Linked DNA regions of Homo sapiens. The protein of the gene in region 2 purifies or fractionates together with the protein of the main gene of each other region. This does not show direct contact. Each region holds a gene or a part of one and is shown on either strand. Other genes may lie near its edges.

The links. Proteins that work in one complex are often made in the same cells at the same time.
Region 1: the proteins of SLC46A3 (region 2) and TMEM106B purify together in Homo sapiens (affinity purification with mass spectrometry; one large-scale study listed by BioGRID and IntAct). This does not show direct contact.

The regions. Positions count from the first base shown.
Region 1 is NC_000007.14:12,238,794-12,242,293, reverse strand, and holds part of TMEM106B (transmembrane protein 106B), read right to left. Parts: 3' UTR 1-3,500. UniProt on the Homo sapiens protein: In neurons, involved in the transport of late endosomes/lysosomes. May be involved in dendrite morphogenesis and maintenance by regulating lysosomal trafficking.
Region 2 is NC_000013.11:28,705,471-28,708,970, forward strand, and holds part of SLC46A3 (lysosomal proton-coupled steroid conjugate and bile acid symporter SLC46A3 isoform a precursor), read right to left. Parts: intron 2,163-3,500; exon of another isoform or gene 1,127-2,162; intron 1-1,126. UniProt on the Homo sapiens protein: Lysosomal proton-coupled steroid conjugate and bile acid transporter. Preferentially recognizes lipophilic steroid conjugates or bile acis as endogenous substrates and seems to mediate escape from lysosomes to the cytoplasm.

The DNA.
Region 1 (3,500 bases), on a different chromosome or scaffold from region 2:
TCACGCCATTCTCCTGCCTCAGCCTCCCGAGTAGCTGGGACTACAGGCGCCCGCCACCGCGCCCGGCTAATTTTTTGTATTTTTAGTAGAGACGGGGTTTCACCTTGTTAGCCAGGATGGTCTCGATCTCTTGACCTCATGATCCACCCGCCTCGGCCTCCCAAAGTGCTGGGATTACAGGCGTGAGCCACCGTGCCCGGCCGGGTATTTTTTTTTAATTTAAGAATTAAGTACCTTACACTTCTCAAAAGAAGACATTTATGCAGCCAACAAACATGAAAAAAAGCTCATCATCACGGGTCATTACAGAAATGCAAATCAAAACCACAGTGAGAAACCATCTCACGCCAGTTAGAATGGCAATCATTAAGTCAGGAAACAACAGATGCTGGAGAGAATGTAGAGAAATAGGAAGCTTTTACACACTGTTGGTGGGAGTGTAAATTGCAACCATTGTGGAAGACAGTGTGGTGATTCCTCAAGGATCTAGAACCAGAAATACCATTTGACCCAGCAATCCCATTACTGGGTGTATACCCAAAAGATTATAAATCATTTTACTGTAAAGACACATACACACATATGTTTATTGCAGCACTGTTCACAATAGTAAAGACTTGGAACCAACCCAAATGTCCATCAATGATAGACTGGATAAAGAAAATGTGGCATATATACACCATGGAATACTATGCAGCCATAAAAAAGGATGAGTTCATGTCCTTTTCAGGGATATGGATGAAGCTGGAAACCATCATTCTCAGCAAACACACACAGGAACAGAAAACCAAACAGCACATGTTGCCACTCATAAGTGGGAGTTGAACAATGAGAACAGATGGACACAGGGAGGGGAACATCACACACTGGGGCCTTTTGTGGGGTAGGGGGCTAGGGGAGGGATAGCATTAGTAGAAATATCTAATGTAGATGACGGGTTGATGGGTGCAGCAAACCAACATGGCACGTGTATACCTATGTAACAAACCTGCACGTTCTGCACATGTATCCTAGAACTTAAAGTATAAAAAATAAAAAAAAAGTTAGGTGTCTGAAATAGATTTGGGATTAAAATTATTTGTATTTCATCTTTTTGGGGCAACTTAAAAAATGCTATTATCAATATATTCCATTCATGAATCTGAAATTCATGAAATGAAAATAAGAAATCAGTGGTTTCCAATATATCATTTTTAAGGATTCCCTTTGAAGACAAAACATTTAAAATGTATGTTAAAATGGAAAATCATTTCTTAAAAATCAGAAATTACATTTGTCTATTGTCATTTTCAGTGCTATTTAGAAAATATAAATTTAAGCTGACATTTGCCTAGTTATAAATTATGTTTCACCCATAAACCAAAGCAGTTTTGTTGAATCACACTCAGTAAGTTATCACTGAAGAAGTGACTGTACACTACCCTCTAGGCCAATGTTCAGGGGTCCCTGGAAAGGTGAGCAGTCAGGGGCTGCAGGTCTTCTGCTCTCAAATCAAAGCATCTGTTTTGTCACATATCAAGGTTCCTCATAAGATGCTATTTACAAATAAGTATTTCACAAGCTTTAAAAAATTCTGAAAAACCACTGATCAAGGAAACAGAAATCTACCAGAAAAAAAAAAAAAGCCTCACAAACTTATTAATGATTCTTCTCCCTTGAGAAACTGGCTAGGAGGAGCACATTCAGGTAATACATCTTTTCATTTTCGTTTTTCCATATTATTCTACAGAGATAATTTTGGGCACATTCCATCTAATTTCAAATCATACTACCTCATACAAGATTTTAAAAATAGTAATTAAAACACAACCTCTAAGCTGACAAAAATTGTTTGAAAAAAGTTGATGAAAACAAAAGTTTAAAACAAGTTTAAAACAAAAAAACTTGGCTCAAACTTTGTGACTGGGCAACTCCTTTAAAAGTAAACATTCAGAAAAAACATTCAGAAAAAGTTCACCAAGTGTTTGAGTAAGTTTAGAGGGAAAGTAGAGAGGGGTTGGACACGAAGTGGGCATTGAAAAAGATAGAATTGGGGGATAAAAAACATGGGCAAATAATTTTTCTAAGAAAAAAGGAACAGAATGAGCGAAGGGATAAAGGAATGAACTGTTCCCAATGAGAAAGAACTCGATTTGGTCAGGACATTGTTGAAGGGCAATAAGAAATGATTGTGAACTGAGATTGTAGCCAGCTAATGAAAGGTTCTCAACACCAGAGTAAGAACTTGGGCTTTTTCAGTAAAAAAGAAGGAAGTGCAGATATACTTCCTTTTATTGTGCATCACCTTATTGCGTTTTGCAGATATTGTGGTTTTGATGAATTGGTTTCTTTCAATCCTGTGTCCAACAAGTCTATGAGTGCCATTTTTTTCAACAGCATGTTCTCATTTCATGTCTCTGTCGCATTTTGGTAATTTTTGCAATATTTCAAATGTTTCCATTATTATTAAACCTATTTTAATGATCTGTAATCAGTGATCTTTGATGTTTTTGTAAGTATTTGGAGGCAGCATGAACCATACCCATGTAAGGCAGTGAAAGTAATAAAAAAAAGTGTGTGTTCGGACTGCTCTCCTAACCAGCTGTTCCCACATCCCTCTCTCCTTGAGACAAAATAACATTGAAATTAGGCCAATTAATAATCCTACAATAGCCTCTAACTGTTCAAGTAAAAGGAAGAGTCACATATCTCTCACTTTCAATCAAAAGCTAGAAATAATTACACCTAGTAATCAAGCATTTCTCACCAAGGACAATCTTGGAAAGTCAAGATAGGCTGAAAGCTAGGTCTCTTGCACAAGTTGTGAAGGCAAAGGAAAAGTTCTTGAAGGAAATTAAAAGTGCTATTTCCTTACTGTAAGTAATTGAAAAGTGTTCCAGAAAACATGAATGATAAGAAAATCAAACAGCCTTATTGCCGATATGGGAATGTTTTAGTGGTTTCAATAGATCAAACCAGCCACAACATTGCCTTAAGTGAAAGCCTAATCCTGAACAAAGCCCTAACACGCTTCAATTCTATGAAGGCTGAGAGAGATGAGGAAGCTATTGAAGAAAAGTTGGAAGCTACCAAGAGGTTGGTTAATGATGTTTAAGGAGATAAGTTGTTTCCATAATATAAAAGTGCAAGGTGAAGCAGTAAGTGCTGATGGAGAACCTGCAGTAAGTTACCCAGAATATCTAGCTAAGATCATTGATGAAAGTGGTTACAATGAACAATATATTTTCAATGTAGATAAAACAACCTTCTTTTACAAAAAGGTGCCATCTAAAACTTTCATAGCTAAAGAGAAGTCAATGCTTGCCTTTAAAGCTTTAAAGGACAGGCTGACTCTCTTTAGTGGTGAATGTAGCTGGTGACTTTAAGTTGAAGCCAATGCTCATTTGCCATCCTGAAAATCCTAGGACCCTTAAAACTTTTACCTACTCTGCCTGTGTTCAATAAATGGAACAGTCTGGATAATATGACATCTGTTTACAACACGGTTCACTGAATATTTT
Region 2 (3,500 bases):
TATTCATTGAATGATAGGACAAACATTCATAAAACATACGTCTATCTCTGCAAAATATCGTGTGCTCACTTATGTGTCTTCTTTTGACTAAAATGAAAGCTTTGTCGATCTGCCTTGTACATCTGCCTTGCTCACAGCTGTATCCCTAGGGCTCAGCTGTCCGGGTGCATGGCAGACATTTAATAAATATTTGTCAAATGAATGAATCAAAGCTTAATTCAGGATCCCATTTACCAGTCATCAAGTAGCATGCAGACTTACTGCCTCCATGATTTATGATAATACATTAAGTCAGTTTAATTGGAAGGATGTTCTTCTACTTGTCTAACTACATTATTTTCTTTTATTTCTGATCTCTTTCTGCAGCCAGGAATAGTGCTATGGAAAACAGACTGCACAGTACTAGTTCTATTATGTAAGAGTTTTAATCTATTCTTGATGGGAAATAGGTCAGACACTGCACCATCTGTTCTGATGGAACCATACTATTATGAAGTAGCTTTAGCTTATTGCCCAACTTCTCTGAGCAGTTCGACTTGTTTAATAGTTGCCAGAGATAAAACAGGATTAAAGGATAAGTACAACTGAGTTCATCTTCTAAATTCTGTTTTTTTTTAATGCAATAGACCTCAAAAATCAAGTCTGTTTTACTGTCTCCCAATTTATAATAACAAGGAGTATATGGGTGATGCCCAGGTAAAATAGTCCAAGGCAGCTTCAGCTATGAGTTCACAGTGGTGCAGAGCGCAGAGATTGCAAAATAATTACCAGAATTCCACTTTCTTACCTTTCTTATTTAAGATAATAGAAATAATGAGAGCCAACTGAAAACTTCGGCAGTATTTCCCCACTCCTCTGATTATTTAAAGTGCCTAATATTTTCACAAAATGGCCAATTTAAATAATAATGAAGGATGCGAATACATTTAGTTATAGAAATGTTGACATCATCCAAAAGATTGTTTAGTTTGCAGTTAAGAACAAAGTAAGTATCCTAGAATAATGAAGTCACAATTCACAGTTACCGTAATTCAAAATAAGAAATGCCAAAATGTAAACATTTTAAAATATTACTATATTTAACAGTATGATATGACTTTTTTATTTTTATGTTTATTTTTCGTAGAGATAGAGCCTCCCTCTGTTGCCCACACTGCTTTTGAACTCCTGGTCTCAAGTGATCCTCCCACCTCGGCCTCCCAAAGTGCTGGGATTACAGATGTGAGCCACTGCACCTGGCGGAGATGACTTTTTAAAAGCCTTTATAAGGATATGAACAGACACTTCTCAAAAGAAGACATTTATGCAGCCAACAGACACATGAAAAAATGCTCATCATCACTGGCCATCAGAGAAATGCAAATCAAAACCACAATGAGATACCATCTCACACCAGTTAGAATGGCGATCATTAAAAAGTTAGGAAACAACAGGTGCTAGAGAGGATGTGGAGAAATAGGAACACTTTTACACTGTTGGTGGGACTGTAAACTAGTTCAACCATTGTGGAAGACAGTGTGGTGATTCCTCAAGGATCTAGAACTAGAAATACCATTTGACCCAGCAATCCCATTACTGGGTATATACCCAAAGGATTATAAAACATGCTGCTATAAAGGCACATGCACACGTATGTTTATTGTGGCACTGTTCACAATAGCAAAGACTTGGAACCAACCCAAATGTCCATCAATGATAGACTGGATTGAGAAAATGTGGCACATATACACCATGGAATACTATGCAGCCATACAAAAGGATGAGTTCATGTCCTTCGTAGGGACATGGATGAAGCTGGAAACCATCATTCTCAGCAAACCATCGCAAGAGCAAAAAACCAAACACCACATGTTCTCACTCACAGGTGGGAATTGAACAATGAGAACACTTGGACACAGGAAGGGGAACATCACACACCGGGGCCTGTCGTGGAGTGGGGGGAGGGAGGAGGGGGGAGGGATAGCATTAGGAGATATACCTAATGCTAAATGACGAGTTAATGGGTGCGGCACACCAACATGGCACATGTATACATATGTAACAAACCTGCACGTTGTGCACATGTACCCTAAAACTTAAAGTATAATAAAAAAAATTTTAAAAAGCCTTTATAAACTAAACCAAATATAAACAAAAATAAACTATACCTCTTGACAGCTCTATTTTAGCTCTAAGTCAAAGCAGGTAAATTTTTTTTCCCAATAGCTTTATTGGGATATAATTAACATCCCACAAACCTCACCCTTTTAAAGTCTGCAATTCAGTGGTTCTTAGTATGTTGCAGATTTGTGCAACCATCACCACTATCTGTGGAACATTTTCATCACCCCGAAAAGAAACTGTATACCCATAAGTAGTCATTCCCCTTCCCCAGCCCCAGTCAAGCCCTAATCAAATTTCTGTCTCTATGGATTTGCCTATTCTGCACATTTCACGTAAACAGAATCATATTTAAATGACAATATGTGGCCTTTTGTGACTAGCTTCTTAAATTTGGCATAATCATTTCATAGTTCATCCATGTTATGGCATGTAACAGAACGATATTTCTTTTTATTGCAGAAGAGCAGTTTGCTGGATGGATAAACCACATTTTGTTTACCCATTTGTCAGTTCATGAACATTTGCATAGGTTTCACTTTTTGGCTATTATGAATAATGCTGCCATGAACAAGATTTTATGTGGACATATGCTTTCACTTCTCATGGTATGTAAGTAGGGGAGGGATTGCTGAGTCATAAGGCAACTAACTTTCTGAGGAACTGCCAAACTGCTTTGTACAGCTGCTGCACCATTTTATGTTCCCACTCGCAGTGTATGAGGGCTCCAATTTCTCCACATCCTCATCAACACTTGCTATGGCCTATTTTATTTTGGCCACCCCAGCCCACTCTGTGGTTTTGCTTTGCATTTCCCTGATGGCTAATGATATCCAGCATTTTCATGCGCATATTGGTCACTTGTATATCTTCTATTCAAATCCTTTGCCCATTTTTAAATTGAGTTGTCTTTTTGTTGTTGAATTTTAAGAGTTCTTAAATATGCTGGATACGAGTTCCTGCTCAGACAAATATAATTTGCAAATATCTTCTCCCATTCTGTGGGTTGTCGGTTGTCATTTCACTTTCTTTCTTTTTCTTTTCTTTTTTTTTTTTTTTTTTGTATTTTTAGTAGAGACGGGGTTTCACCATGTTGGTCAGGCTGGTCTCAAACTCCTAACCTCGGGTCATCCACCCGCTTTGGCCTCCCAAAGTGCTGGGATTGCACATGTGAGCCACTGCGCCTGGCCTCACTTTCTTGATGTTGTCCTTTGAAACATAAAAATTTTTCAAAGGACAAACTTTGAATGAAGTTTTTGGATGAAGTCTAATCTATCAATTTTTCCTTTGTTCTTGTGCTTTTGGTGTCATATCTAAGAAACTATTGCATAGTCCAAAGAAGCAGATAGATTTTTACATAGTTTATATAAATTTTTCCATTTGTTATTGGTTTTCAAAGC